Homo sapiens: one gene and its partner. The protein of the gene in region 1 purifies or fractionates together with the protein of each later gene. This does not show direct contact. Each region holds a gene or a part of one and is shown in the gene's direction. Other genes may lie near its edges.

Region 1 (3,806 bases):
ACTATGGAAAAGCCACTTCTCTCTAGGCCTTGGTTTCTCCATCCAGAATATAAAAGGGGTTGAAATCAATCAATCCCTCCCTCCCTCCCTCCCTCCCTTCCTCCCTTGCTTCCTTCCATCCTCCTGTCCTGCCTCCCTCCCTCCCTCCCTCCTTCCTTCCTTCCTTCCTTCCCTCCTTCCCTCCCTCCCTCCCTCCTTCCTTCCTTCCTTCCTTCCTTCCCTCCCTCCCTCCCTCCTTCCTTCCCTCCTTCCTTCCTTCCCTCCTTCCCTCCCTCCCTCCCTCCTTCCTTCCTTCCTTCCTTCCTTCCCTCCCTCCCTCCCTCCTTCCTTCCTTCCTTCCTTACATGTGTAGCCCTCTGCTAGGGATATTAAGATGAACGAAGTTTAATCAAGAGGCTAAAAGAGGAGGCACACAAGGTAACCAATAAAATAAATAGAGTATGAGTGTAACTATGGAAACGTGCAAGACCTGGAGTTGGTACAGAGGACAGAATGATTTGCTGGGAGAGGGGGGCAGGGACAGCTCCAAGGAAGGTTTCCTCTGGGCTCTGAGCTGGGTTTGGAAGATGAACAGGTGATCTCATGTTCCCTCCCAGCTCCACCCCTCAGTAAGACTCATGAGATTTTGCTCTTGTTATAGGGGTAGATGGGACTGGGGAAGACAGCAGAGGAGGTAGTGTTCTGATTTATTTTATCAAGGGCTCTTTAAAGCCAGAAAGCCAAAAACAAGGATGCCTCAAAGTGGGAAATAGCCCTTAGCATAACAAGCCTATCCTTGAAGATTCCATAAACCAAGGCAGCAGGAGCATGGGCAGAGCTGGGGAGAAATGCATGCCTGGCACTCAGAGAAGGTCATTCATGAGGAGGGTGAGCAGCAGCACCTGATGCACGCTTTCATGTGCCCTCCTGGAGAGCTCGGCATTTTGGGCGTGGGACTGGGGTGCCGTCCACCCTGCCTGCATGTGGGTATAGGGCTCAGCTGTGCTCTCTCGGGGCTGCAGTCTAAGGTTCAGCTGACTCTTCTGATGTGGGAATGGGAAGCCATTCTGTAAAAGAAACTGAGTCTTGTTCAGACCTGGTCTCCCAGTCCTCTCCCTGAGCCCCCATGCTGTGTTTGCTCCCCAAACTAGACCCATTCACTTCTCCGTCATAGCAGAAGTCACTCTGGTGGTTACTAAGTCAGGTCTTTCAACCCAGTGTCCTACAAGTGATCCTGGGGCAGGGGCAGGGGCAGTGGCAGTGTCAGGCATGGGTCCCTTGATGGCCCAAGAGCGTGGCATCATTGTAGCAGGTGCACAGTGGGTATTGGTTGAAAGAAAGTATGAGAGTAACCAAGCATCAGTCTGACCTTAAGATACCGAGGGCGCAACCCCAGCCTTTCCAGGAGCCTCTTCTTAATGACCCAGAGAAAAAGCCTATTCCTCTCTGGGACTACTGGGACTTTGTGGACTGCCCCTTTAAAAATCAAAACAGCCATAAAGCAGGAAAGAGAAACACTAGCTGTTGCCCCAGAAGCTCGGCAGACAGAGGCAGGTAGGGGAGCAGATGCCATTTCCACAGCCCTCTACAGAGCCTCATCCACTGAGTCTCACACTCACTGGGGCGGCTCCCGGGTACCAGGCCGTGTGCTGGGCCGCGTTCTGAGGGGAGTGAGGGGACTTTCCCTGCCCCAAGTGTCAAGGGCTGCTGTGAGGTGAGCAGCACCACAGGCATGCAGGAGAGGGATGAACTCACCTGCCCAGGACAGAGCAGGTGCCACACTCAAAATCTCAAAATGGGCCTTAGAGGGTGTGTAGGAGTTCAACGGAAGAGAAAGGGCAGAGAGAACAATGCGTGAAAGGTGGGCAGGAAAAAGAGAGAGCCTCCCTGAGGCCCACAGAGGCTGTGTTGCTTATCCAAATCCACACAGCCAGTAAACAGAAGGCTTGGACTCGGACACCGCGCCACGCCCTGGAGTTCACGCTGTTTACCACTCTGCTAATAGTGCCTGAGTTACTAGGTAACCACACTGTTTTCAAGAAGAAGCAACTACTTAGTTCAAAGTGATTAAAACCCAGGAAAAAAAATACAAAAATTAGCCAGGCGTGGTGGCGCGTGCCTGTAATCCTAGCTACTCAGGAGACTGAGGCAGGAGAATCGCTTGAACCTGGGAGGCGGAGGTTGCAGTGAGCCGAGATCACGCCACTGTGCTCCAGGCTGCGCGACCGAGTGAGACTCTGTCTCAAAAAAAAAAAAAAAAAAAACCGAGGTGTGGGGGGAAGAAAGTACCAGAAGATGATGCCAAAAAGTCAGGTTAAGGCCAGACAGTAAGAGCACCGAGGCCATGCAAAAGAGTTTTTGGGCTTGGTGCCTGGGGCATGGGAGCTGGTGGGGACTTCTCAGCCGGGGGTGCCTTGGGGGATCAGCCTGTGGGCGGAACAGGAGCCAGGAGCCGGGAGCCAACTGAGGTGGGGAACCGAGGTGGACAGTGTGGCGGGGAGATGGAGACAGGTTTGAGGGCAGAGGGGAATTGGCACATGGTTGTCATTGAGAGAAGGAGGAGCCTACAGTGACCCTGTGGTGTCTGTGGGTGGGTGGGTGGGTGGGTGATGGCGCGGCGCCATGTATGAGACTGAGCAGGGAGGAGGAGCACAGATGATGAGTGTGGTTCCCATGGGTGAGCTCCTGTCCAACCCAGAGACTTTTCAGTCCAGTGTGGGGCTTGGCATGTAGCAGGTGGCCAGTAAACACAAAGTCTACTATCACCCTGTACACTTCCCATCACCCTGTGCATTTCCCGCATCCTGAGCCATGGGCTCCTCCTCACTGAGGGTGGAGAACTCCCCTCCGCAGAGGATCCTTCCTTATTGGGATTCAAGTGTTCCTGGCTCCTGCCCCATCCCTTTCCTTCCTTCATTGCAGAAGCCCTATGGTAGCGAGACAAAGAAAAACGCCTACATTTACTTTTATACCCTCTGCCTGCTTTCCTCCAGGTCTGCTGCCTTATTTCTCTCGGCCCCTCAGGCATGTGCAGCCACTCAGGTTAATGCTTCACCCCATCATGTTTCTTTCCTATGAACATAAAGTTCCTAAAATTACACAACAGGGGTGACCTGCTCCGCCCCTCCTGGCCAGCTTGCATCCTTGTCGCCTGGCTTCACCCTCTGCAGGGCTTGCTGGCTAGTCGGCCACAGGCTATGGCTTTGAAAAATGTAGTTATTGCCCAGGCGCGCTGGCTCACACCTGTAATCCCAGCACTTTGGGAGGCCGAGGCAGGTGGATCACCTGAGGTCAAGAGTTCAAGACCAGCCTGACCAACTTGATGAAACCCCCTTTCTACTAAGGATACAAAAATTAGCCAGGCGTGGTGGTGCACACCTGTAATCCCAGCTACTCAGAAGGCTAAGGTGGGAGAATTGCTTGAACCTGGGAGGTGGAGGTTGCAGTGAGCCAAGATCGCACCACTGTACTCCAGACTAGGCGACAGAGCGAGGAAAAAAAAAAAAAAGAAAAATGTAGTTATTACCCTCATGGAAAACCACGCTAGATTCTGTAAAGAGCCAAATACTGTTGAATCAACTGTATGCCAATGGTTGTTGAATAGTTCACTGGGGTCAGATCTCTCCCCACTCCATCAAGTCCCTCTTCCTGCCTCTTCTGCTGCTTTCTGCTGACTTAGGCAGTTTCCAGGCGGCTTGAGTGACAGCCATGAGCCATTAATTCAGAACCATCTTGCCGGAGGTTCTTTGACAGAAGCTTGACTTCTGGTACCAGCAGGGACAGTTTAACCATATGGAAGGGACCTCAGATATGGTCCCATCCAGTGC
Region 2 (3,806 bases), about 25 Mb from region 1:
GTCCAGGGACAGGGCCAAGCTTGGCATTTTGGAGGACTGTGACATGATCAGGGAGACACACATCCTATGTGGTGGCTTAATTGTGTCTTTTGGCTCCAGGCAGAATGTGGAACAAGGAGATCTCCATTTGAGGGCAAGGAAGTGGGTGCAGACAGGTTGCTGGGTTATGCATGGACCTGTGTAACACTGGCAGGGTAATGGTGCTTGAGTGGTGCCGGCATAGGGGTGTGTGTGTATGTGTGCATGTGCATGTGCATGTGAGCACACATGTATCAGTATCTGCCAAATCTCTGCATATGGGCAGCATGCCTCAAGCAGGTCCCTGGCCCACAGAGTGAAATGATCCCCATCCCTTCCTCCCCCAGACCTGTGCACACCGATATGAGGCAAGGCAGCGAGTGGACCAGATCCTGGAGACGCGGGATATGATTGGTCGCTGCTTTGTGCTCAGCCAGGACCTGGCCATCCGGGATGAGTTGGATGGTGGGGAATGGAAGTTCTGTGAGGGACGCCCCCAAGGCCATGAACAATTTGGGTTCTGCCAGCAGGGCACAGCTGCCGCCTTCTCCCCTGATAGCCACTACCTCCTCTTTGGGGCCCCAGGAACCTATAATTGGAAGGGTGAGTCACTCCTCGGGAAGGGGAGAAGGGGACCAAAACCTCCTCTTACCTCAGAGACAGGGTTGGGGATGGCACATGGCCAAGCATGACCACATGTGCACTGCTGTATGGCCCCAGGGCACTGCCATGCCTTCCACCCCATTGAGCTAGTGCACACATGAATGGGGGGTGCCTCCTTTCCCTCGCACGGCCAAGTGTTCCTCAACATGCTGGCATGGGCCCCAAGTGCACGCTGGGCCTGCAGCTGGGGCCTGCATGCTCCAACACACTAGCCCACACCTCATCACTGCCATTCCCGTCTCCGCACGCTGCTGCTGGCTGAGCTGACACTCGGTGAGTGTGATGCCACATCTGGGGGACCCCAGGAAGCCTGGGTTGGGGACAGGGTGGGGAGAGGGCTAGAAAGAAGAGGCAGGGCTTCCCCGTGTGCCTGTCTAACTCAGTGTCCGGCCTGAGGGGTGTTCCTTGCGCCCTGCCCTGGGCACTAACAGGTCTGTCCTTGCAGGCACGGCCAGGGTGGAGCTCTGTGCACAGGGCTCAGCGGACCTGGCACACCTGGACGACGGTCCCTACGAGGCGGGGGGAGAGAAGGAGCAGGACCCCCGCCTCATCCCGGTCCCTGCCAACAGCTACTTTGGTAGGGACCTCTCCCCGGCCCAGAACTGCTCTAACCCTCTGCTCCTCTCTCTTGTCCTCTCTCTCCATGCTCCCATCCTTCTGTCTCTGTTTCTGTCTCTCACCTTGTCTCTCTCTGTCTTTCTGTCTCTGGCTGTGATCTCTCTGGTCTCTTTTTCTCTCTCCACCTCTTCTTCTTCCACCATTTTCTGGCCTTTCTGTGGCTCTGTCTCCCTACTCTGTGGCCCCTACTCTGGATGTCCCCTCCCTGGTGTCTCACCCCACCCCCCACAGGGTTGCTTTTTGTGACCAACATTGATAGCTCAGACCCCGACCAGCTGGTGTATAAAACTTTGGACCCTGCTGACCGGCTCCCAGGACCAGCCGGAGACTTGGCCCTCAATAGCTACTTAGGTTTGTAAGCTCCCACCTCCTGGACTCTAGGGGCATGGCCCAGCCTCCCCTCCTTCCCCAGGGAACTCGACCTTTGGTGCCTTATAATCTCCTCCTCCCCCAACACACACCCAGGGAGACATACATTGGGCCCAAATTGCAGAGAAGAGCTGGGTCCAATGATCAGGCCTAAGAGGAGGAGGCCCCCAGGGTGGTGGCCTCTGGGGCTGTGAGCCAGGGGTCTCCATGGAGGAAGATTCAGGTGGAATGAGAGGGCCAGGGCTGAGGATATTTTGGGAAGGACAGTCCTGTCTTCTAGGGGGACTTTCCCTGAGGGGATGGATGGTGGGCACATATTGAAGAAAGGGCTAATGTTGTTGGTAAGTCCCTCTCGTTGTCTCATCTGCATTCCTCTGCAGAGGAGGAGGAAACCAGGCCTGGGAGATGTTTGGGTGAAGCAGGCGCTCTCTCACTCCCCCTTGTCTCCCCCTCATCCATGTGAAGACTTCCCCTCCCTGCCAGGATGAGGGAGTTGGGGGAAAGAGGTGCACTGGGTGGGATTCGGGCCTGAGAGGGACCTCTAGCTCTTCTAGCTCCCTGGGTGTGGGCAGGGTGAGGCCACTGTGCTCAGCCTCCTACCTGGGCTCCTGGCCTTCTCAGCCATCACCTTTCTCTCTCTTGCCCAGTCCCTGAGGCTGACCTCACTGCACTTTTTGTGCCAAGCTTGTCTCTGGGCCTGGTGGGTGTGGGAGGCTGCCAGGCCCTGTGGGGAGGAAGAGCTATCCAGCTGTGGTGCTGATGACTTGGGGGGACCTATCTTTTGGCTCTTAACCTAGGGGAGGGGGCAGGGTGCAGGGGAGCTGTGACTTGGCTCTTAACCTGTAGGGAGGGGGCAGGGGCTGGGGGAGCTGTGACACACCCCAGCTTCTGAGTCTTGGGGTGAAGACTTAGGGGTAAGTCACCCTTCCCCCAGGCTTCTCTATTGACTCGGGGAAAGGTCTGGTGCGTGCAGAAGAGCTGAGCTTTGTGGCTGGAGCCCCCCGCGCCAACCACAAGGGTGCTGTGGTCATCCTGCGCAAGGACAGCGCCAGTCGCCTGGTGCCCGAGGTTATGCTGTCTGGGGAGCGCCTGACCTCCGGCTTTGGCTACTCACTGGCTGTGGCTGACCTCAACAGTGATGGGTGAGTGGGTAGAGGGCCGTGCCACCTGAGGGAGGCTGGGTCTAGTAGCCCCAGTCTGGCTGAGGCCACTTAGCCTCCTGCTGGCTCCTCTGGCCAGGGAGGACCCACACTGAATGTTTCCCTCTCTCCATAGCTGGCCAGACCTGATAGTGGGTGCCCCCTACTTCTTTGAGCGCCAAGAAGAGCTGGGGGGTGCTGTGTATGTGTACTTGAACCAGGGGGGTCACTGGGCTGGGATCTCCCCTCTCCGGCTCTGCGGCTCCCCTGACTCCATGTTCGGGATCAGCCTGGCTGTCCTGGGGGACCTCAACCAAGATGGCTTTCCAGGTGTGACGGGGAACTGGAAAGGCTCAGGGAGGGAGGGGCCACAGGAGGGATGGGGAAGCCCCTCAGAGGTCAGGGTGTGGTCTTCTGAGGACTCAGGGAGAGAGGGTCCCTGAGCTTATGTCTGAGCTGTACCATTTACCAGCTTTCTGACCTTGGCAAGTTCCTAACCTTTTTGCGTTAGTAATATCTGCAGGGAGTGGCCAAGAGGATTAAAGATGATGTATGTAGAGTGCCTGGGATTTTGTAGCCTCTCAATAAAATAGAAAACATACCTGAGTGACTGGGGGGAGTTGAGGCCTGGATCTTGTCTGCAAGGCCCCCAGCCAGCGTGACTGCCTTTTCCCTGTGCCCTGCAGATATTGCAGTGGGTGCCCCCTTTGATGGTGATGGGAAAGTCTTCATCTACCATGGGAGCAGCCTGGGGGTTGTCGCCAAACCTTCACAGGTGAGGGGAGTCGCTGGGATGAGGGAATGGGTGTGGGTGGAATCAGCAGAGGCATCAGGGGAGGCAGAGGCCTGCGGGAGGTGGGATTGAGGGAGGCTGACAGCTGGTTCTCTAGGTGCTGGAGGGCGAGGCTGTGGGCATCAAGAGCTTCGGCTACTCCCTGTCAGGCAGCTTGGATATGGATGGGAACCAATACCCTGACCTGCTGGTGGGCTCCCTGGCTG

What was found.
Region 2: the proteins of TSPAN11 (region 1) and ITGA7 purify together in Homo sapiens (affinity purification with mass spectrometry; 2 studies listed by BioGRID and IntAct, with this or other methods). This does not show direct contact.

The regions. Positions count from the first base shown.
Region 1 is NC_000012.12:30,957,557-30,961,362, forward strand, and holds part of TSPAN11 (tetraspanin-11), read left to right. Parts: intron 1-3,806.
Region 2 is NC_000012.12:55,697,714-55,701,519, reverse strand, and holds part of ITGA7 (integrin alpha-7 isoform 2 precursor), read left to right. Parts: intron 1-99; exon of another isoform or gene 100-103; coding exon of another isoform or gene 104-141; exon of another isoform or gene 142-170; coding exon of another isoform or gene 171-194; intron 195-365; coding exon 366-621; intron 622-633; exon of another isoform or gene 634-954; intron 955-1,126; coding exon of another isoform or gene 1,127-1,258; exon of another isoform or gene 1,259-1,493; coding exon of another isoform or gene 1,494-1,530; coding exon 1,531-1,650; intron 1,651-2,602; coding exon 2,603-2,810; intron 2,811-2,943; coding exon 2,944-3,137; intron 3,138-3,493; coding exon 3,494-3,582; intron 3,583-3,697; coding exon 3,698-3,806. UniProt on the Homo sapiens protein: Integrin alpha-7/beta-1 is the primary laminin receptor on skeletal myoblasts and adult myofibers.